3 separate regions of the Homo sapiens genome follow, and all the other regions are linked to region 1. Evidence: fine-mapped expression QTL. A gene starts in region 1. Each other region holds a variant in brackets. All regions are shown on one strand. Distances are between the middles of the regions.

Region 1 (8,260 bases):
ACTCTCTTCAAAAGATTACATCTACAATAAGACAAACCCAAAGCAATTTTGATAGCAAAGTGATAGAAGGTATAATGGATACAAACCATACGAAGTTATTCCACTAACTGAATCTTTACCACTGGAAGAAGAGACAACAGGAATGCCATCATGGAGAAGGGCAGCAAGATCTTTATATCCTTCATGTAGTAGAGCATTGTAGAATGATACGTAGGAATCATTATCTTTTTTAAGTATCATTTTAATCAGCATAGCTGCTCTTTGCTGTTGAGTGGGCTAAAAAAAATTAAGTAGTTTAGTATACAACAATGAATATGTATGCAACATAAAGTAGTGGAGACCAGTACAAGTTCTGAAATTCTAAAAATTTTTAAGGAAGTGTGGACTGCTTCAGAGAGCTTTACCTCATTTCTTACTTTTTCCTCTTCTGATATTGTTAAAAATCCATCACTAATCATGTGATCCATGATGTAGGATGTCTTGATGTCCTTTTCCAGAGCTTCTCTATGTTGAAGCAAACAATTTCGAGCTTTTGCATCCATCTTCCCTCAGATCTTTCTCTCTCTGAGCTGTCAACCATGAGCTACAGCCAAAACACCAAAATATTTGTCAGGCCAATAAAAATATGAAAAGATACATAATCTCACTAATAAACAAGAAACGTAAAAAGAACAAAACTGATTTTTTTTCCTTGGCAAAAATTTTTAAATGGACAAAACCCAGTGCTTGGAAAGGTATGAGAAAATGGCCATTCTTATGCACTAATTGGGGAAACTAGAAAATGAATGCAATTTTTCTGGAAAGCAGTAAGATATGGAATTGTTTAAAATAAGCTTTCTCTCTAACCCAGAAATCCCATTTCTAAGGATTTACTTCAAGGAGACATTCAAATACATATGTAAAAATATCCACAAGGAGAATTAATGAGTTTCCAATCAGGTGTGGTAGCTCAAGCCTATAATCCCAGCACATTGGGAGGCTAGAGTAAAAAATAAAAAGAAAAAAGAATTAATGGAGGATGTTTCAGTGATGAACGCAACCTAAATGTCCATCATTCTGAATATAGATTTTAAAAATTAGGGTATGTATATAAAATGGAATATTATGCAGCCATTCAAAATTATGACACATATCTCCATGTATTGACATGGAAAGATGTTCATAATACTGTTGCTGAAAAAAAAAAAAAAAAAAAACAGAAACATGATCCCACATACAACACATAACGTGGGGGCCGGGCGCAGTGGCTCATGCCTGTAATCCCAGCACTTTGGGAGGCCGAGGCGGGTGGATCACGAGGTCAGGAATTCAAGACCAGCCTGGCCAAGATGGTGAAACCCTGTCTCTACTAAAAATACAAAATTAGCCAGATGCAGTGGCAGGTGCCTGTAATCCCAGCTGCTCGGGAGGCTGAAGCAAGAGAACTGCTTGAACCAGGGCGGCAGAGGTTGCAGTGAGCCGAGACCACTCTACTGTACTCCAGCCTGGGCGACAGACTGAGACTCTGTCTCAAAAAAAAAAACAAGTGTTGGTATCATATGAATATATATAGACGTTTAGAAGTTTATTCATCGAAATGTTTGAGTTACTTCTGAGTAGCAAAATTTGGGATTTCTCCCCCACCTTGTCTTATTTTTTTTTTTTTTTTAGTACAGACGGGGTTTCACCATGTTGACCAGGCTGGTCTTGAATTCCTGACCTCAGGTGATCCACCCGCCACAGCCTCCGAAAGTGCTGGGATTACACTTGTGAGCCCCACCATGCCCGGCCTCTACTGTCAATTTTTTTTAGCACACATTATCATTTCTTACAATAAAATACTTCCTTTTTTAATTAAGATTGTATAAAATAGTGATTACATTGAAGTCCTAATATTAAGAGACTTCTTGTTTTCCTTATCAAACATAAGAGTGAATAGAGCATTGTTACTATTGAGTATTAGTTCTCGTTCAAGGAGGATGTCAGCTCTAGGTCCTCCTTGCTAAACACATTTCCCACAAAGCAACAGGAAACACTTTCTGATGTGATTTCTCAGACCAGGAGGACATGAGGAAAGAATAACAGCCTTTATAGTAAAATACTTGACGTTTCTAGCAACTTTATTTCAAATATAATGCAAATTTTTCCATGGGCATAAAACCCAGTTCACAATATCTGCAAGTTTTCAAAACATTAACAGAACTTTACACAATGTATAGAGTGAAAGAGTCTAAACGGGTTTATCAATTCATTCATTCAATACACATTTGTGCCCCTCCCTATATGTCAGACACCAAGACTACAGAAAAGATTGAGTCATTTGCCTGAAATAATTCACAGTCTACTCAAAGAAGAAAAAGAGAGAGAGAGTGGGAATGTGAATGCCCGAAGTGCAAAAACAGAGCACAAGTAACTTGGAGCTCACAGAAGGGGGCAATAATTATCAAGCTTCAATGACTGTTTTTGAAGTCACCAAATGTAGCACTTGGAAAAACAGGGACGGACGTAGGGCATTTGCCTATGCTTGTCAAGGCTTACAAAATGCCCAGCAGGGGCACAAAACTGATAAAAAGTTATTGATTCGAATCAAAACTCTCATTTTTTAAAATGTTAATAACGTTTTTGTCCTCTTAAACATAAAATGTTCCTTAATTTATAGTAATGAAATTCGATGTGAAAAAACAAGAATGAATGAATTTTTTAGGTGATGTCCAATAGCTAAGCAAATAAGACACTCTGGTTTTCTGAAACTAATTTCCAATTTCACCTAGTCCTGTTAAACTAAAATATGCAAATCTTAAATACGTTTTAAAACTGCACAACTTATCTGAACTAAGTCTCAAAACCTTTTGTAACCCACAACAAAATGGAAAGCCAAAACTCTTCATGGACGTAAAACAGAAAACAGCGCACGTTTATCCACGAAAACCCCAAGTTTACTACTTCCTCATTACAGAATTTCTCTTCCTGGTACAGGAGCAGGATGGTTATCAAATATTCCATGTCCTCAAATTCTCAGTCCCTGAAATCAGCTACCAAGCCTCCAAAGAACCTGGCTCGGGGAGAAAAGCGAGGAGGTCAACTTACCCAAGCCTTTGCGCCTAGGTCTTAGTGGGGAGGGCGGCACTGCCGGGACAAGACTGGGAGACTCCAGGCCGGTGGAGGGAAACGGCAACAGGAGTTTTCCACCGGGAATTAGGGGTGCAGGGCTCTGTCTCGCCACATACCCTTCGCCCCGGGGCAGGTCCGGGCCTCACAGGCGCCTCCCCTGGATCTCTGCAGCCCCGGGGCGCACGAAGACCCCCAGGGACCTCCGAAGGTTGGCGAGGTGGGCGTCCACCCAACGCAGCCTGACCCCACAGTCCCGGAGCGCCGCGGTGAGGCCCGGCCCACGGGCCGCCCTCCGGTGGACCCCACTACTGGACACAAAGGGAGGAGGTCTTCCCGGCCTGTGGCGCCCTTCCCCCGACGGCGGCTGCACCCCGGAGGGAGCCCGGCGCTACTCCGGATGCCGCTGCGGCACCTCAAGTCTTCGCGGGTCGCCGACTGCCCAGACTCCCCACCTCTGGTTCTATCCCTTTTGCCCGGGATAGAGCAGTCACGTCCACTCGCTACCTCTTCTTCTCCGCCTCTGGACAGCGGAGCAGTCAAATCCCGCCGGATCCACCCAGCCCGGACGGCGCGCGCCCGCTTATGCAAATAAACACACCCCAAGCCCCAAGGGGCGGCCACCGCTGCCGCCGCGCACTCCTGCCACGGCTCATGCCCGCGCGCGTAGAAGTGCCCGCCTACCCCGCGGACGGGGCGTGGCTAAGCCTCAGGGACGCGCCGCGTTCCCACCAATGCCGGACTCGGGCAGCGGCGGCGCGCCCGACGTGGCGCGCGCGACCCCTTCGTCCTGCCCCTCCTCCTCGGGTCCCGTCGGCCTGCGCGCGCCCGGGAGTTTGAATTTCCTCGGATTTGGAGCAATATCGCAGTGGAAGGCGCTGTGGGTTGAGGTCGCCGCCCACCTCTCCTAGGGGAACTATGGAGCTGGCAGCTGAAAGACTCAGTGAAGCAACGAGGATGCCGGGGAGAGGGAAGGGGCTGGGCTCTGGGCGGTGCCAAGTCTGTGAGGGGGCGCGGTCACCGCCCAGGGTTCCCACGAACGCCAAGGCGGCCACGTCCTGCTCCCCCTGGTGAAGAAGCTGCCCTGGGCTTGTCGTCCTAGGGTCTCCAGACATGTCTGAGGTGAAGAGCCGGAAGAAGTCGGGGCCCAAGGGAGCCCCTGCTGCGGAGCCCGGGAAGCGGAGCGAGGGCGGGAAGACCCCCGTGGCCCGGAGCAGCGGAGGCGGGGGCTGGGCAGACCCCCGAACGTGCCTGAGCCTGCTGTCGCTGGGGACGTGCCTGGGCCTGGCCTGGTAAGTGGACGCGAGGCTGCCTGGGCCGGCCTCCTGTGGGCCCCCTGCTGTTTGGGCTCCCACCCGGCTCAACATCCAGCCGGAGGTGATCCAACCTCCCAGACCTGGGCCTTCTGTGCCTCTGTCTTGACCCCAAAGGAAGGAAACAGCCCAGCCTTGTTTTTCCCTTTCGGGCGTTTCTTGTATCTCATTTCCCCCCGTGCTGGTAGCATGCCCCTATCGCTCAGAAGGAGTTGAGGCTAAGGTTTGGGAACGAGCCATTTGTTAAGAGCTGCAGATTCGGCCACGCTTTCTGAAGCTCCCGCTACACGTCAGAAGCGTTCACGTTGTTATAAACCGTTACTTCCTGTCCGCTGTGCCCCATTCCGGGACACATCTGCCCCACCCTACTCACCCCATAAATACCTAATGGAAATACTTGCAACCTTAAAACAGATCATTATGTTTGGAGACCGAGGCAGGTGGATCACTTGAGGTCAGGAGTTCGAGACTAGCCTGGCCAACATGGTGAAACCCCATCTCTACCAAAAATACGAATAATCAGCCGGGCGTGGTGGCGGGCGCCTGTAGTCCCAGTTCCTCCGGAGGCTGAGGCAGGAGAATCGCTTGAACCCGGGAGGCGGAGGTTGCTATGAGCCAAGATCGCATCACTGCACTCCAGCCTGGGCGACCGAGCGAGACTCCGTCTCAAAAAAAAAAAAAAAAGAAAACCATATCATTATGCTCCCAAAGGAGCAAACGTTATAGTAGCAGAGCTTGGAGGAGTGCTCATATTTTGATCACCGTGCATGCATTATGAATTTAAGGTCTTTTATTAAGTAAGTTACAGATTGAATATGGTAAAGCTACAAAAACATAGCACTTGTGTTCACTTAAAACTAACCAGTTGCAGTTTTAAAATCAGGTAAATGGCGATATATTGGTGTCATTAGGAAAAATGAATATTAGAAATAACCTTAAAACCAACTCGTAAAAAAAGAAAAAAGAAAAAAACCAACTTGTGAATTTTATTTTCCCAGCCTTTTTTTTTCTGGCGGGAGGAGGGAATAGCCCATTTCATTTTAATAAGATTGGCATCTTAATAGAATTTTTCTCCATTTTTCATTCATGTGTAAAGTTATTTAGTAAGACTGTTGTTAATCTTCCAGAGTGATAGAATTTTAGAAGAGACCCTGGACATCTAGACATTTTTTATGCTACTACATATGGAATTATACTTTACTGGTGACTCATCCCAAATAGTGTATTTTTCAGAGTTAAAAGATTTGTTACGGCTGGGCGCGGTGGCTCACACCTGTAATCCCAGCACTTTGGGAGGCCGAGGTGGGCAGATCATGAGGTCAGGAGTTCAAGACCAGGCTGGCCAACATGGTGAAACCCTGTCTCTACAAAAAATACAAAAATTAGCCAGGCTTGGTGGCACAAACCTGCAATCCCAGCTATTCAGGAGGCTGAGGCAGGAGAATCACTCGAAATGGGGAGGTGGAGGTTGCAGTGAGCTGGGATCGTGCCATTGCACTCCAGCCTGGGCAACAGAGCGAGACTCCATCTCAAAAAACAAACAAACAAAATTTTGTCACAATAAAGTGATTAAACGCCCTCTTCAAAAACAATAGAATTGTCAGCCTGCCGGCAGTGGCTCATGCCTGTACTCCCAGCACTTTGGGAGGCCAAGGTGGGTGGATCACCTGAGGTCAGGAGTTTGAGACCAGCCTGGCCAACATAGCAAAACCCTGTGTCTACTAAAAATACAAAAAAGCCAGGCATGGTGGCATGCTCCTGTAATCCCAGCTACTCAGGAGGCTGAGGCAGGAAAATCACTTGAACCCAAGAGGCGGAGGTTGCAGTGAGCCGAAATCGTGCCACTGCACTCCAGCCTGCAGGATGGAGCAAAACTCCTTCTCAAAAAAAAAAAAAAAAAAAGCAGATAGCATTATTTATTTTACTAATACGGAATATGTTAATTTTGATCTGAAAGGAATAAATGTACTGAATTTACTGTTTTAAATAAACGGCTCTTATGCCTTAAAATGCTTGACCTCCTTTAAGTAAATTGAAAAAAAAACCTTTTTGGGCCAGGTGCAGTGGCTTGCGCCTGTAATCCTAGCACTTTGGGAGGCCGAGGCAGGCGAATCACTTGAGGTCAGGAATTTGAGACCAGCCTGTCCAACATGGTGAAACCCTATCTCTACCAAAAACACAAAAATTAGCTGGGCCTGGTGTAATCCCAGCTACTCAGAGGTTGAGGCAGGAGAATCACTTGAACCTGGGAGGTGGAGGTTGCAGTGAGCCAAGATCTGCTACTGCACTCCAGCCTGGATAACAGAGCGAGACTTCGCCTAAATAAATAAGTAACCTTTTGTGTTTTGGGAAAGTTAGTTACTATCCTGGGATAAGCTTTAATAGAAAACTAAACTTTATGGGAATAAAATTTCCCTCACATCAGGAATTTGCTGTTAGTGATTCCTGTATTACATTGTAATGAATGTATTACATTCATTAGGAAGATTTAATTTGAACTATGTTTGCAAAATGATAACACAATGCTATATCAAAAATAATTTTGGGGGCCAGACCCAGTGGTTCATGCCTATAATCCCAACACTTTGGGAAACTGAGGCGAGAGAATTGCTTGAGGTCAGGAGTTTGAAACCAGCCTGGGAAACATAGTGAGACCGTGTCTACGAAAAATTTTTAAATATTAGCCAAGTGTGGTGGCATTCGCTGTAGTCCCAGGTACTTGGGAGGCTGAGGTGAGAAGATAGCTTGAGTCTGGGAAGTCAAAGCTGCAGTAACCCATGATTATACCACTGTGCTCCAGCCTGAGAGACAGAGCAAGACCCTGTCTCTCTAAAATGTATGTATTATATGTGTTTTTTATGGGCAGATTCTATAATTATTATTTAAATAGTTGCCTCTTAGTTGCTCTTGTGAAATCTTTTGCTGCAAAAATTGAAGCAAATGTACTTTGGTTGCTGTTTATTGCAAAATATTTATTCATAGTAAATTTTGAAATAAAAATATATCCCCATAAGACATTTGTAAACATTTTCCAGATAAAAAGCAAGTATTTGGCATCTTAAAATACTTAAAAGCTCACTAGAATTTTGACAAAGCCATTGAGATCTTTACCACTAAAACACGTAATTCAGCATCTAAAAGTCGGTCTATCAAATCTTTATTAAATGCTTTCCGTACTGACACGGCCCTGGTGGTTAAAATACAAGTGCATATGTGTGCCTGTCTGTGTACTCTTAAATACTGCTTACTCTCACTCTTCATCTGATTAAGTTGGAGGGAAAAAATCTGAACCCTTCCACTGCCCAAGAAGGATTTCAAGGAATCACACTATATCATTGTCTTCAGACCATTTCCTATGTGGAAAGAAAAGAGAAATAATACATAAGAAACTTAAAAGTGTGTTGCTTTAATATCTTCTCTCTGCTAAATAAAGGCCTGATAGGCCAGGTGTGGTGGCTCCCACCTGTAATCCCAGCACTTTGGGAGGCCGAGTTGGGCGGATCTTGAGCTCAGGAGTTCAAGACCAGCCTGGGCAACATGGTAAAACCCTGTCTCTACAAAAAATACAAAAAATTAGCCAGGCATGGTGGCGCATGCCTGTAGTCCCAGCTACTTGGGGGGTTGAGGTTGGAGGATTGCTTGAGCCCCGGAATTTGAGGTTTCAGTGAGCTTTGATTGCACCACAGCACTCAGCCTGGGTGACAAAGTGAGACCCTGCAAAAAAAAAAAGGCCTGATATATCCTATGTCATCTTGACAATAAACACTGGAGATAAGTTGCCCAAACCCATATGGCTTGAGTGTCAGTTTGCATAGCTCTTTTCTAAACTCTTATAGAAATTTTTCAGGTAAGAATTGAGG
Region 2 (8,260 bases), 76 kb before region 1:
GGTGAGGAGCTAAGTGGTTGGCCTATAAACCGTTAGGTAATAGGTGTTTCAACAAGGGACACAGGCAGTGGTATGGAAGATAAAGTGGAAGAGGTGCAGACCAGAGGCAGGATGCTGGGACAGTTCACCAGTGGAGGAGGAGGAAAGCATGCTCTTCAGGGTGGTGACAAAGAGGAGAAGATAACTCTAAGATGCACTAAAGAGTCATCAACAGAGCACAAAAGACAGGATACAGCCCTGACAATTCCAAGGTTTATAGTTTGGAAAGACTGGTAGAAGGAGAAAAAAGGAGAGAAGAGAGTACTTGAGGTCCCCCACCAAGCAGCATCATTCACCAGAATGTGATTTTAGACACACGTCAATTATATTACATTAATTATATTAAAATTGTATTGTCAGTGTATAATTAAATGTAAATGCTTTTCAATGATTTTTATTGCCTACAATATGCAGTAGAGGTTGCATTTGATTAGTTATAGACAAAAAGTAATCCATAAGGGAGAAATCAGAAGTCCTCAATGTATTTCATTTCATTCATTTGATACCAACTAAATGCCAATGGGCATCCTCCAAAAGATCACAAAATATGAAACAGACATGTAGAGAGCAACTGTTATGTCCTTTTGCATATATTATTTGAACTCATTATACATAACCACTACCAAAGTTTTATGCATGGTTTCAATTGATTGACCTACCTTTGCAGTCTTGTCAGCAGAGGTAGATGAAAACTTGGTAGCATCGTGAGAAATGTCACAAGAAAGTACTGTACCCTGGTGACAGACAAAGTCTTTTTCTTTATTTCCAGTAATAATATTCCATACCTTAAAAAAAAAAAAAAAACACTTGGAGGTTGACACTTTTAAGAACATTTTATATTAAAAAGCATAATCAGCTACAAGACAGGTCTATAAAACAAGAGTTTTAATACACTGGCTGTTCTGACCCCTTTACTTTAAATGTGACTAACAGTATAAATGCTCATTAAACACAGCAGATGTAGGTGACTGCAATTAACAGAAAACAAGCATGAGAAAAATTAAAAATTTTTAAGTAAGTAATTAGCCTCACAGTGGCTTTTGACTGTCTCAATATAATCATTGCAATATGAGAATACTTTTTCAAAAAACAAATTTATACTTTAAATTACCTTCACTGTTCCATCAAATGACCAAGAAAGCAGTCTTGAATTTTTCAAGAGTCTAAAGTCTTTCACTGTTTCCTGATGGCCTCGTAGAAAGATACATTTGTCCAATTGCCAATTCCATACCTGAATATCAAAGAAATAAGTCTGTTATAATCCTCCCCCGATCCTATCTCATTGGAGGGGTGGAGAGAGTGTACATTCTCTTGTCTAAAGTCTTTTACTCACATGGCATTTCAGTAAAACAGAGAGGAATAAGAGAGAAGACTGTGGTGTCCACATTTTACAGACAGAAGCTGCGGTTATGTAAATTGACTAGGGGCAAAATAAAATACTTTTCCTCCTAAATAAAATTTGTTTTCTTCAGTTGCTTGGAGAACAGTTAATTATACCAGAAGATAGAAAAAAAAAAACACACAATATGCCAGTGAGCTCACCATCTGATTAAATTTTCCTGAGAAAATTATCCTAATTACATAGTCACAGATTTCTGAACCTACAAGCTGGGGAAGTCTACAGATCCTGGCCCCACTGAAGCTGGCCTGGGAAGGCCAGTTGATCAAAGCAGCTTCAAACCAAAACACAAGAGTTCCCAAGCTTCAAATATCTCAGCTATCCCCCATCGCAATCCTCAAAATGACGGAAGTGAGAAGGCATTGTTTTTCATGTGGAGCTTCAGGAGGAGCTCCTCAGACATAAGGAAAGGGGTGGGGGGAATGAAATAACATGAGTAACTAGCACAAAATATGCATACAAACGTATCTGAGACACAGAGGTACACAGAAGTTTATTTTTATGCTATGTCTATGTAAAGGACATTTCTTAATTACTAAAAGCAACTGTATTTAGAGCTTTATTAATACTTGACTTCAAATTAACTTATTTAATAAATGTCTATTTAGTACCTATATGCAAGGCAAATAGGAATCAAACAAGGATCTAGCATAAAGAAACTTAAGAGTTTAGCAAAGAAAATGAGAAATACAACAACAAACCCAAAAAGTCCTACAATAGAAGATACAATGATAGAGATAAAAGTTCTGTGAAACTCAAAAAAAGTAATTCCTTAGAGAAAATTTGGAGATAGCACATTCAAAGTAGGCTTGAGGAATGGGTTTAAAGTGTGATTCACAAACTGAGAAGGGTTCTTCAAAGGGAATAAATGTTGGAGTTAAAGTATAGGAGCAGGGAAACGTGAAAAGGGACCTGCTCATGAGTCCATCTGACTAGAGCATAGGAGACGCAGAAGAAACAGAAGAGAAAAAAGGTTGGGAAGGTATCCAAAGAAACAGCCCCGTGGGCCTGATGAAGCTAAAATTCTGAGGTATGGGAAAACAGGCCAGCTCCAAAAGAATAAAAAGATAAAGAAAAAGCAGCCACAACTACAGGTATGCACATGAGTAACATTCTGAGTCTAGCTTTTTATTGGCCAATGCTAAACAGCAGAAATATCTTTAATCAGACCTAGGCAAAATCTTAAAATAAATGACATCTCTTATTCCCCTTTTTTTTACTTCTTTTTCCACCACATTTAGCAGTCGTCCTCCCCAACAAGCCCTGGCTTTCAGATCTCTCATCTTCTGCCTCAGAATGCTCATTCACAGAAGCAGGATATCAGGAGCATGGGGTCTTGTATGCAAGCAAGAGAACTTTAGAAGACGAACTGGAAGTGAGAGTAATTCTAAAGAGAATGAATTAGTAATTTTCATATTTTAAGAACCCAATGAGATATGCTGGGGGAAGGGGAAGAAATGGAGGCATTTCTGGCTTCCCAAATCATACCAGAGAGGAAGGGCACCCCATATGACTAAGCATAAAAGACCTTATTCCATTTCTACTAGGAAACTCCTGGCTCTCTCCTCCCGCTTTCTGGGCTTCACTGGACTGGAGGATCAATGGCTATGCTGAACAGCTCCTCCTAGTTTACAGACACTGCCTATTCTAGCTTTGCCTGATTCAATGTTCATTTCTAACTTAGTATCTTACTTCTGCCCTCTGCATCAAGAACTCAGACAGCCTTCTGGAGCAGATATAACAAAGAATTTGACAACCACTGAGGGCAGATTAAGAATAGCCTTTGCAGCTTTTGTTACAGAAGGTTTCTGACTAGGCAATGATGATGAGTGATTTGTTGTTGTTGTTGTTGTTGCACGGAAACACACTGTGCTAATTGAATAACCTTAATATCACTAAACTTCCACCACCATTAGTCAAATGCAAAAGTTGAGTTTGGGGATGTCTCTATCATTGACTATTTTTGCAATGTATATATACTTGTAGAATTTTTTTCAGCTATATGAATAAAATTTAAATTGTAGAAATGTTAAGGAAATTTTTTTTT[TC/C]TTTTTTTTTGAGACAGAGTCTTGCTCTGTCGCCCAGGCTGGAGTGTAGTGGCGGGATCTCAGCTCACTGCAAGCTTCGCCTCCCAGATTCATGCCATTCTCCTGCCTCAGCCTCCTGAGTAGCTGGGACTACAGGTGCCTGTCACCACGCCTGGCTAATTTTTTTGTATTTTTTAGTAGAGATGGGGTTTCACCGTGTTAGCCAGGATGGTCTCGATCTCCTGACCTCGTGATCCGCCCGCCTCGGCCTCCCAAAGTGCCGGGATTACAGGCGTGAGCCACCGCACCCGGCTGGAAACTTTTCATACCAGCAAGAACTAACATAGTCCTATATACTGGCTCATGTAAGCATGGGTAATACTTGGCCTTTATTTACTTCAAGGTAAAGGATCAAAAACTACCAAAGTAGACCTCAATGTTCACAATCCTAAGGGCTATAATCAGGTGAGCTGATTCTTCAAAGTTTGGCAATAACTTCAGCTCAGCAAAGATTTACAGAACCCTTACTGGATTCCAGGCTTTGGGGATACAAAGATAATTAAAACAAACCTCCACTTAATCATTTACAAAAACCTTAAAAAATGAAAACAAAACCCAACCAGTCATTTCTCGAAAATATCTATAGAGTTTTGTTACATTTAAAACACTGTAAATGTAAAAAGTATTCTGAGTAGAACAGAAAAAGAGGAAGAAACACAACTACTTAACTCATATTTCTAAATATAATCTAACTCCTTTTCTAAAAATATCTCTAGAAATTATTCTTCCCCCTAGCTGAGAATACCTGAAATCGTCAAGCTGGTCATAAAAACCTTATGAATTTAACTTTTGATAGAATACATAGTATACAATGTCTCAAAAGAACTTCATCAGATGTAGTTTTTAGTTTTACCCATTCCAAAGACATCTGGAGAGGAAGAAAGGTGACTATTACACTGAGTTTTACAGCTAGAACACCAGTGTCATGGGAGCCTATAACAAGTAAGTTTCTGTACTAAAGCCAAATTTCATTGCAATCATACTGCTTCCTAGGACTCACACAGACATAACATTAAAAGATCTTTTTCCCAAAAGGGTTTTTAACAATACAATTAAATATTGCCACCACAATTAATATATATACTAAATAAAAGAATATAATAATTTCCACTGAACATATGCATTCTATCCTTCACTTCTAAAGCCCTACTAAAATGGCAAGATCAAAAGAATGAGAAAGGAGATAACAGCAACAAAATGTGGGAGGCTGGAAAGCAAGAGAATGGTAACTGACTCAGCAAAGTCAAGAAAACAGAATCCTAAAGGCATTATAAAAAGTCAAAAGTGGCCAGGCGTGGTGGCTTACGCTTGTAATCCCAGCACTTTGGGAGGCTGAGGCGGGAGGATCACAAGGTCAAGAGATCGAGACCATCCTGGCCAACATGGTGAAACCCCAACTCTACTAAAAAAAAAAAAAAAAATTAGCCGGAAATGGTGGCACGGGCCTGTAGTCCCAGCTACTCAGGAGGCTGAGGCAGGGGAATTGCTTGAACCCAGGAGGCGGAGGCTGCAGTGAGCCAAGATCATGCCACTGCACTCCAGCCTGGCAACAGAGCAAGACTGTCTCAAAAAAAAGAAAAGAAAAGAAAAAGTCTAAAGCAACAAAATCGGCATTATGAACTCCCAAAATGCTCAAAAATGGAAGGCACTAAGTATACCCAAAGGAGGAAATGAGGGTGGGGCTAAGAATATAAGTATTAAGAATTAGGAGGCAGAGAATCCTAAGATAGCCACACAGTGTTCACCGAAAAGTGCAATGGAACAACTAGAGAAGAGCAGGAGACACTGAGTGTGAGGTACAGTCTGGAAGGACTGGAGCAGTGTGAGCCTTGTGAGCTCTCAAAATTAACCAGAACAACCCTACAGTGAGGAGAAACCACAGGGAATAGAATCCAATGGAGTAGAACGAGGATAAGGGCATCAAAGGAAAGAGAAGGTCGAAATAACTGAGAGGGAAGGAGATGGGGCAAAGAGATCTCCTAAGAACAAGGCCATTATATATTTGAGATGGGGACTTGCTCTGTTGCCCAGGCTGGAGTGCGGTAGCATGATCATAGCTCACTCCAGCCTGGACCTCCTAGGCTCAAGCGATCCTCCAACCTCAGCCTCCTGAGTAGCTGGGATTATAGGCATGCACTACCACACCTGGCTAAATTATTTTGTTTTGCAGAGATGGGGTCTCGCTATGTTGCCCAGGCTGGTCTCTAACTCCTGCCTCAAGCAATCCTCCCACCTCAGACTCCCAAAGTGCTGGGATTAAAGGTGTGAGCCGCTGCGCCCAGTAAGGCCATATTTTTAATGCCTCGTGAAAATAAGAGAACGAGCTGCAGAGCTGTGAAGCTAGAAATGCTGGACTTCCCCACTCCTCCAAGGAGTTTAGGAAACTTGATTTTACATAAAAAAGAAGGCCGGGCACGGTGGCTCACACCTGTAATCCCAGCACTTTGGGAGGCCAAGGTGAGATCACTTGAGATCAGGAGTTCAAGACCAGCCTGGCCAACATCGTGAAACCTTGTCTCTACTAAAAATACAAAAAAATTAGCTGCATGTGATGGCAGGTGCCTGTAATCCCAGCTACTCAGGAGGCTGAAGCAGAAGAATCACTTGAACCTCGGAGGTGGAGGTTTCAGTGAGCCGAGATTGCACCACTGCACTCCGGCCTAGGCAATAGAGCAAGACTGTCTCAAAAAGAAAAAAAAGAAAGAAAAAGAAAAGAAAAGAATTGCTGTTGAATCCCAAAGTTACTATGGGAAAAAAAGGAAGAAAGTAGACAGACAGTGACAGCAAACTAGAAAGAAGAATCTCTGAATTTAAGGGCACCAGCACAACTGAGGGTAGAATTACAATTCTGAGAATGAGGGATCAAGGGAAGGTGTACATACTAAATGTTGAGATCCAACATCTATTAATACTTCCTGTTATCTTCCCCAACTTAGCTCTGAGAACCTGCCAGCCAGGTTTATCCTCCAGGCAAAAGACCAGAAAATTCCTCTCTAGGAATCTGAGGAGACCAAGACAAAAGACCTGAAGATACTCACAACAAAGTTTCCCCTTTCAGATTCACCTTTTAGAGAAGATCTCAGTCAACACACAGAGCTTTCAGCCAGTTGTTCAGTACAGATCTCTGATAGCCAATGACCACTGAGAGCTAAGGAGGCCTTCAAAATAGGAGGTCAAAACAACCAAACAGAAAAAAGCAACTTGGAGGGAACAGCAACTATGCAGCAAAACAAAAATTTATGGGGAAAAAATTATATATATAAGCCAGGCACAGTGGCTCATGCCTGTAATCCCAGCACATTGGGAGGCCAAGGTGGGTGGATCACCTGAGGTCCAGAGTTCAAGACCAGCCTGACCAACATGAAGAAACCCCATCTCTACTAAATATACAAAAATTAGCAGGGTGTGGTTGTGCATGCCTGCAATCCCAGATACTCAGGAGGCTGAGGCAGGAGAATCGCTTGAACCCAGGAGGCGGAGGTTGCAGCAAGCCAAGGTCGCACCATTGCACTCCAGCCTAGGCAACAAGAGTGAAACTCCGTCTCAAAAAAAAACAAAAAAAAATTATATGTGTGTGTGTGTGTATATAATTTCTATATATATATTATATATATTTACCTGTCTGTGTGTATATCTCCTCAGAGAGATAAAATATTCTATCTACAAAATAAGAATTTAACACATTAGAAATATACTAGTAGAAATGAAAAACTCAATAAAATGGCTGGAAGGCAAAACTGAGGAAAACTCCCCAAAAATAGAGCACAGTAGGCCAGGTGCGGGGGCTCATGCCTGTAATCCCAGCACTTTGGGAGGCCGAGGCGGGCGGATCACAAGGTCAGGAGTTCAAGACCAGCCTGGCCAGCATGGTGGAATCTCATCTCTACTAAAAAAAATACAAAAAATTAGCTTGGCATGGTGGCATACGGCTGTAATCCCAGCTACTCAGGAGGCTGAGCCAGGAGAATTGCCTGAACCCAGGAGGCAGAGGTTACAGTGAGCCAAGATCGCGCCACTGCACTCCAGCCTGGGTGACAGAGTGAGACTCCATCTCAAAAAAAAATAAAGAAAAAAACATAAAGCACACTATAGAAAGATGAAATGTGGAAAAAGAAAACTAGATTATCAGTCCGGGAGATCTAACATCTGAATAATGGGTGTTACAAAAAGAGAAAGCAAACTGGAACAAAAAGGAAAGAATCAAAGAAATAATTCAACTTCCATGAATTAAAAATCATAGGTTTCCAAATTGAAAAGGAAGACTGAATATCCAAAACAATGAATAAAAACTAACAACACAGTGTATCATCAGGAAATTTCAAGATTCTGGGGATAAAATGAAGATCCTAAAATCTTCCAGAGAGAAAGATTAGGCAGCAAAATGGCTTCAGACTTTTCAACGTGAACTTTGGAACTTGGAAGAAAATGGAGCAATGTCTTCAAAGTTTTAGTGTAAAATAATTTCCAACTACACCCAAAGGTCAAATTTTCCTAAATTGCGTTAAGGCAAAAAATGCATTCACAGTACCCTTAGTACACAGTGATCATAGTAACAGGAAGGATCTAAACAAAATTTCGTTATAATTGGGATAAATGGATTGATAAATGAGTGTCTGTGAACGTGTGCATGCACATAAGCTGAAGGCAGGACAGGTGGAAGGCGGAAAAAAGCAACATCTTCCTGTAGGGAATTCGGTAGATAACTTCTCAAATGGGAAAATCAAGAAGAGCACTA
Region 3 (8,026 bases), 25 kb after region 1:
AATGACACAAGGGAAAGGAAGAAAACTGCACTTCTACAAGTATAACATGAGAAAACTATTAAAGTATATATGCGTTTGTATGTATGTATAGATATCTAGATAGATATATCCTGTATTTATGAAGAGGTTTTCCTATTAAGAAATTATTAGAGAGATTTAGATGTACTTAATTTGTCTTTCTCTCTTTCTTCCATTCATTTATTTAACACAGATGCTTAAAATTTCAAAAACTTTCCTGTGTATCAAATATTAAATTACATTGTTAGTCTTTTCTTTAGGGAAAATTACCAATATCCTAAAACACATTTTTGTATCTTTGTAACTGATAATAAATTTTATGTCAATTAATTTCTTATAAAGTGGCCAGGCACAGTGCCTCATACTTGTAATCCCAATACTTTGGGAGGCTGAGGCAGAGTGGCTTAAGCCCAGGAGTTTGAGACAGCCTGGGTAACATAGTGAGACCTCGTCCCTACAAAAAAAAAAAAAAAAAAAAAAAAAGTGTAAGGAGGAGTAAGGCCAGGCACAATGGCTCACTCCTATAATTCCAACACTCTGGGAAGCTGAGGTGGGAGGATCGCTTGAGCTCAGGAGTTCAAGACCAGCCTGGATAACATGGTGAGACCTCATGTCTACTAAAAGTCAAAAAAAAGCGCATCCCTGTAGTCCTAGCGACGCAGGAGGCTGAGCCCAGGTGTTCAAGGTTGCAGTGACCTGCACCATTGCATTCCCAGCCTGGGTGACAGAGCAAGACCCTGTCTCAAAAGCATAACAGTACTGGATCAGCTGGGCGCAGTGGCTCACCCCTGTAATCCCAGCACTTTGGGAGGCCGAGGTGGGCGGATCACCTGAGGTCAGGAGTTCAAGACCAGCCTGGCCAATATGGTGAAACCCCGTCTCTACTAAAAATACAAAATTAGCCGGGCATGGTAGCAGGCGCCTGTAATCCCAGCTACTCGGGAGGCTGAGGCAGGAGAATCACTTGAACCGGGAGGCAGAGGTTGCAGTGAGCCAAAATCACGCCATTGCACTACAGCCTGGCAACAGAGTGAGACTCCATCTCAAAAAAAAAAGTAAAAGTACTGGATCAATTTTTTTAATGTTAACAGGAATAAATCACTTTTACAATACAAGCACCTAATTATTTTTAAACTTTTGAATATATAATTTTTAAATGTAATATTGCCTTAAATTTTGCTTAATGATCAGAAACTATTGACTAATTATACTTGTATATTTTATAACCAAAAATCTTGATTTATTAGCCTGTGTGGCTTCATAGAAAAACCCATAAGATGCAAAATTAGTAGTATTATTTTTCTTCTCAACCTAATTGTAGACCTTTGTATGAATCTATAACATTGTTCAAATTTTGATATGATGCCATTACACAGTAATGATGCTGAAAATTTACCAAACTCAATAAGAAAAAAAAAAAAACATCCTTTGTAGACTTACCCCATATTTGCACAGTTGACAAAAGCTCTACAAATTTTCCTAGCACCTGCTCATTTCAATTTATAAGCTATTAATTAATTTTGGGACAGGGTCTCACTCTGTCACCCAGGCTGGAGTGTAGTGGCGTGAGCACTGCTCACCACAGTGTCAACTTCCTGGGCCCAAGGGATCCTCCCATCTCAGCTCCTCCGATTGCTGGGACTACAGGTGCACACCGCCATGCCAAGCTAATTTTATTTTTTTGTAGAAACAGTCTCATTATGTTGCCCAGGCTGGTCTCAAACTCCTGGGCTGAAGCAGTTCTCCCATCTGGTCTTCCCAAAGTGCTGGGATTAGAGGTGTAAGCCACCATACCCAGCCTATAAACTATTAATTTAATACAAATCAAAATACTCCACCCCAGCTTTACACAGCAGGAGAGGAGAGAACTAACACTTCAGCACCTGTTAAAATGACATACCCACACGTATGTCAAGCATTTCTAGGAGATGTACATTCATCATAATCATTCCTTTTTTTTTTTTTTTTTAAGATGGAGTCTCACTCTGTCCCCAGGCTGGAGTGCAGTGGTGCGATCTCAGCTCACTGCAACCTCCACCTCCCGGGTTCAAGCGGTTCTCCTGCCTCAGCCTCCCGAGTAGCTGAGACTACAGGCATGCGCCACCATGCCCAGCTAATTTTTGTATTTTTAGTAGAGATGAGGTTTCTCCATGTTGGCCAGGATGGTCTCGATCTCTTGACCTCGTGATCCGTCTACCTCAGCCTCCCAAAGTGCTGGGATTACAGACATGAGCCACCGCGTCCAGCCTTCATTATCGTCATCATAACAGCTCTATATATTGATTACCTACCTTGTGCCAGTCATTATCACTAATCCTTACTACACCTTTACTAGCTATTAGACCCATTTTACAAATAAGGAAATGGAGACTTAGGAACATTGGGAATCTTGCAGTCACACTGTAGACCTAGGTCTGTTCAATTCCAGAGGCCAAGGACATCTCACTACACCATGGAGCCTGCTACTGTTCAACTAGGGGAGAAAAATCACAACAAATCTGCTGTTAGTAGAACTATCTCGATAACTCAAAAAGCAATAATTGAGTCAAATGTGTTCTCTACCATGTTGCCATTAAACCAGACTCAGTCCCTCAAAAGCTGTAGCTGTGCTCTAAAATTGTTTGGCCCTTGAGCATGAGAAGGAATCAATAAATGAATAAATGTTGGAGAAGAGGAAAAAGCAGTGCTGAAGAGTCCTAGGCTGTACTCCTCTAATCTATTAATAGGTTTTGCCACTGCATATTCTGGGCACTTTATTTTAGGGCTTAGGTTTTTTTTGTTTTGTTTTGTTTTTTGAGACAAAGTCTTGCTGTGTCGCCCAGGCTGGAGTGCAGTGGCACAATCTTGGTTCACTACAACCTCCGTCTCCTGGGTTTAAGCAATTCTCCTGCCTCAGCCTCCCAAGTACCTGGGATTACAGGTGCCTGTCACTACACCCGGCTCATTTTTTGTATTTTTAGTAGAGATGGGGTTTCACCAGGTTG[G/T]CTAGGCTGGTCTCGAACTCCTGACCTCAGGTGATCCACCCACCTCGGCCTCCCAAAGTGCTGGGATTACAGGTGTGAGCCACCACGCACGGCCACTAGGGCTTAGTTTTAAATAGTAAAAGGAGAGAATTATATCAATAATCCCTAAGATGCCTTCTGGCTTTAAGTGGTTTTATTTACTTATTTACCCTTTTTTTAATATAAAAAAAAGTAGAGGTGAGGGTCTCTCTATGTTGCCCAGGCTGGTCTCAAACTCCTGACCTCAACGGATCCTCCGTCCTTGGCCTCCCAAAGTGCTGGGATAACAGGTGTGAGCCACTGCGCCTGATCTAAATGGTTTTAAATTATACAGATCAATAAAATTTCCAGGTCCTTTAATAGAATTCAAAGAACCTAGCTGGGTGCAGTGGCCCACGCCTGTAATTTCAGCGCTTTGGGAGGCTGAGGTGGGTGGATCACGAGGTCAGGAGATCGAGACCATCCTGGCCAACATGGTGAAACCTGTGTCTCTACTAAAAATACAAAATTAGGTGAGCGTGGTGGTGAGCGTCTGTAATCCCAGCTACTTGGGAGGCTGAGGCAGGAGAATCTCTTGAAACCAGGAGGCAGGGGTTGCAGTGAGCTGAGATGGCGCCACTACACTCCAGCCTGGGCGACAGAGCAAGACTCCGTCTCAAAAAAAAAAAATCCTTTAGCAAGTTTTTAGAAAGCAGATTGGACCTAGAAATCATATTCTTGAACCATGTTGCTGTGCTTGTAGATCCAGGCAATGTTTAACATTACAGGACAGCATCTAACCTCATACCTTGAATATATGATAGGAATTTAATAAATATTCTGGCCGGGGGCAGTGGCTCATGCCTGTAATCCCAGCACTTTGGGAGTCTGAGGTGGGCGGATTACTTGAGGTCAGGAGTTCGCAACATGGTGAAACCCCGTCTCTACTAAAAAAAAAAAAAAAAAAAATAGAAAACTTAGCCAGGTGTGGTGGTGCATGCCTGTAATCCCAGCTACTTGGGAGGCTGAGGCCGGAGAATCACTTGAACTCAGGCGGCAGAGGTTGCAGTGAGCAGAGATTGCACCACTGCACTCCAGCCTGGGCAATAGAGTGAGACTCCATCTCATAAATAAATAAATAAATAAATAATCAAATCACTGATGTACTTTTTTTTTTTTTTTTTTTTTTCTGAGAAAGGGTCTGGTTCTGTCGCCCAGACTGGAGTGCAGTGGCATGATCTCAGCTCACTGCAACCTCTGCCTCCCAGGATCAAGCCATCCTCCCAGCTCAGCCCGGCTATTTTTGTAATTTTTGTAGAGATGGAGTTTCACCATGTTGCCCAGGCTGGTCTTGAACTCCTGAGCTCAAGTGACCCATCCACCCCGCCTCACAAAGTGCTGGGATTACGGGCGTGAGCCACCATCCCCAGCCTTCACTGATGTGCTGTTTTCAGCTACTGATAGACTCTAACTCTTCTATCCATCCTAGGCAAATAGGTTAACCAAACCCGAAGTAATTTTTAAAATAACTTAATACAACAATCTGTAGACTATTACCACACTGTATTGAGCTTATATTTTCATAAAGATCAATAGAAGTTCATGATACATTGCTATTATAAACAACCAAGTGAAACAAAGAGGTTTACTAACAGCTTCTTCCTAATAATCTGATCCTTCTAAGAATAAGCTAAGCTCATTCATCAACATCTTAATTGTTTAATTGCTATTAAGCTACTTTTACCAGAGTAGATACATTAATAAATGATAACCTGGTAATGAAATAGATTAAAGTAGCCGTCTAGTCCTTTCTCCCTTGGGAGATTGTTTCATCAAATACACTATGTTGCAAAACTTCCTCCTTAAAAATAAAATGTGATTTTGCAATCACTTCTTGGTTTCCTTCCTATTTGTGGCTACCGCTTAATGTCATACCCACAGGAACATTTCGCAAACTCACTTCTCTACCAAAAAACACATTTTGGGCCACCTTATCCACCAATAATTAATTTAAGCATAAAGCAATTGAGGAGAAAAATCCTCAAGTGTATTTTGAAATTAAACATTTATGATGGGGCGAAGTGGGGGGGTTGCTACTTAGAATTATTTTGTCCTACTGTCCCATTTCTGTACTTCATTATAATTATTTTGCAACTATATGGATGCTTCTTTTTAAAGCTGCCCTCAAAATAATATTCTGAGCATAATTCATTTTTATTTGTGTTAAGTAAAACTAAATGTATGATAACCAAAATAATCTCAAAAGGTTGGCATTAGCCAAGTAATCCAAATACAATTTAAGAAAGATAATTCAAGCTAGGTGTGGTGGCTCACGCCTGTAATCCCAGCACTTTGGGAGGATCACTTGAGCCAGGAGTTCAAGACCAGCCTGGGCAGCATAGTGAGACCCCCATCTCAAATTTTTTTTTTTTTTTTTGAGACAGAGTCTGGCTCTGTCGCCCAGGCTGGAGTGCAGTGGCACAATCTCGGCTCACTGCAAGCTCCGCCTCCCGGGTTCACGCCATTCTCCTACTTCAGCCTCCTGAGTAGCTGGGACTACAGGCGCCCACCACTACGCCCGGCTAATTTTTTGTATTTTTAGTAGAGACAGGGTTTCACTGCATTAGCCAGGATGGTCTCGATCTCTTGACCTTGTGATCCGCCCACCTCGGCCTCCCAAAGTGCTGGGATTACAGGCGTGAGCCACCGCGCCTGGCCTCAATTTTTTCTTTTAAGAAAGATAATTGATAAGAAAACATTGAAGAAATACACAATTATTTTAGAAAAAAAGATATCTTTAGATTAAACTGCATATTTAATTTTGTAAAAATGTTTTACAGTCTATTTGTTTTTATAAATTTTAATTTCAATTTTTTTGTTTTAGAGATGGGGGTCTTGCTATGTGCCCAGGCTGGAGCACAGTTGGTATTCATAGGCACAATCATAGCACACTACAGCGTCAAACTCCTGGACTCAAGCTTTTTTATTTCTTCTTTTCTGAATTTTAAGTAACACATTTATCGACATTCTGTGTCCCAAACTAAACTACAAACTCCCTAAAAGCAGAGACTGTTCTTGATCATACTAGGACATACTGTAGTACAGTATATGCTGTCAAATCAAACTAGTTTTGGTTATTAATAGAAAGTTATAATTTCCTACTTTACAACATAGTACTTTCCTAGAAAACAAGCTGAAAGTTAAATATGCAAAAGTCAAATGATTGACTTACACATTATAAATGGGATTCTTTTTCCAGAGTAATTACTGTATATCTGTCTTTGGGCATACGCATTAGCAATGTATTTCTAGCCATTTTACATTTGTTTCTTAATTTATTTTTCTTCATAATTGAGCACACAGTCCATAGGCTAATCTTCTGATTGAAGCTAAATAGTCTTACCTGATTTCCATCTTTGTTTTAATTGTACGACTTTATCCAACTTTGTGTGGTTTATGAGATCTACCCATCTTATCGCTATGTAATTTTCCCTTCTTCATTTTATTAACTGATGGCACAATGCAATAAAATGTCAAATATTTAAAGTTCGATAAAATACTCAACTCCCCAACACTGCTATATAGGCACGCACATGTGTGTGCACAGACACAGGACCATCACCACAAACAACAACAAAAATAACAACTCAAGATGTTGCCAGACACTTGGGTGGCTCCAAATGTTTATCAGTTAATGTGTCCAAGTTAAATCAAGGTGACAATTTAAGAGCTTTCAGTTCATAATGTATAGTGGGGAAGAAGGATGACATTGAAACATACAAAAGTTGAAAAACAGCTGCATTTGGAATCAGAATTTTAGAACCTTGGAAATTCTTTTCTTTTACTTATCTGTCTTCTCTACTAAACTAAGTTGAGGCCACAACTCGAGTTATACTCATCTTTATGTTCCACATATTTTGCATGCCTAACAACATACTAGGAACTTGAGAATTTGAATTATTCAAGGTCTCATGGATAGTTAGATAGGCCAGAAAACTGTTCATAAAAGTTACAGGCCAATAAAGCGTAGACATATAGTCTTGGACATTGGTCCCTTCATTCTAGCATTTGCTATAACTTATTTGCAGTTGCCTTAGACCCCGAATAGCCAAAGCAATCTTGAGCAAAAAGAACAAAGCTGGAGACATCACACTACCCGATCTCAAAATATATTACAAAGCTGTAGTAATCCAAACAGCGTGATACTAGCATTTAAAAAAAAAACATAGACTAATGGAACAGAGAGCCCAGAAATACTTCTACAAGTGTATGTTCAAATGATTCTCATCCAAGTTGCCAAGAACACACAAAAGGGAAAGGACATCTCTTTAATAAATGCTGTTGAGAAAACTGGATATCCTATGCAGAAGAATGAAACTGGACCCTTATATCAAACCATATACAAAAACCAATTCAAAATGAATTAAAGACTTAAATGTAACACCAGAAATTGAAAACCGCTGGAAGAAAACATGAGGAAAAAGCTTCTTGACGTTAGTCTTGGGAAAGATTTTTTTGAATAGAACCTGAAAAGAACAAGCAACAAAAGCAAAAATAGATAAATATGATTGTGTCAAACTAAAATCTTCTGTACAGAAAAGGAAACAGTCAACAGAGTGAAGAGACAACCTATAGAATGGGAGAAAATACTCATGAACCATAAATCTGAGAATGGCTTAATATCCAAAATATATAAGGAACTCAACTCAATAGCAAAAAAAAACCCAATTAAACAATGGGCTATGGACATGAATAGACATTTCTCAAAAGAAGACATAGTAATGGCCAACAGGTATATGGAAAAAAATGCTCAACATCACTAATTATCAGGGAAATGAAAAATTAAAACCACAATGAGATATCAACTCACACCTGTTAGAATATTTATTATCAAAAAGACAAAAGATAACAAGTGTTGGTGAGAATGTGGAGAAAAGGGAACCATCGTACACTGTGAGTGGGAAAGTATAGCCATTATGGAAAACAGTGTGGAGGTTCCTCAAAAAAAAAAAAACTAAGAATAATCA

What was found.
Region 2: its variant is fine-mapped to the expression of APAF1 in whole blood (TOPMed, PIP above 0.99).
Region 3: its variant is fine-mapped to the expression of APAF1 in whole blood (TOPMed, PIP above 0.99).

The regions. Positions count from the first base shown.
Region 1 is chr12:98,640,642-98,648,901 of GRCh38, reverse strand. APAF1 (apoptotic peptidase activating factor 1) reads right to left here and starts at 3,612. Exons shown (of 27, transcript NM_181861.2): 1 at 3,067-3,612; 2 at 405-583; 3 at 87-276. The coding sequence starts at 542. It overlaps IKBIP (IKBKB interacting protein), which reads left to right and starts at 4,114. Exons shown (of 3, transcript NM_153687.4): 1 at 4,114-4,379. The coding sequence starts at 4,201. RefSeq lists silencers at 3,208-3,417, 3,738-3,937 and enhancers at 3,514-4,141, 4,142-4,768, 4,769-5,396.
Region 2 is chr12:98,716,203-98,724,462 of GRCh38, reverse strand. It overlaps APAF1 (apoptotic peptidase activating factor 1), which reads right to left. Exons shown (of 27, transcript NM_181861.2): 23 at 1,151-1,270; 24 at 699-824. Among named protein-coding and RNA genes, the nearest start is that of APAF1, 75 kb to the right of the region's middle. RefSeq lists a silencer at 6,546-6,746. The variant TC/C (reference allele first, on the strand shown) is at 3,486.
Region 3 is chr12:98,616,036-98,624,061 of GRCh38, reverse strand. It overlaps a transcript of IKBIP not described here. Among named protein-coding and RNA genes, the nearest start is that of SNORA53, 20 kb to the right of the region's middle. The variant G/T (reference allele first, on the strand shown) is at 3,003.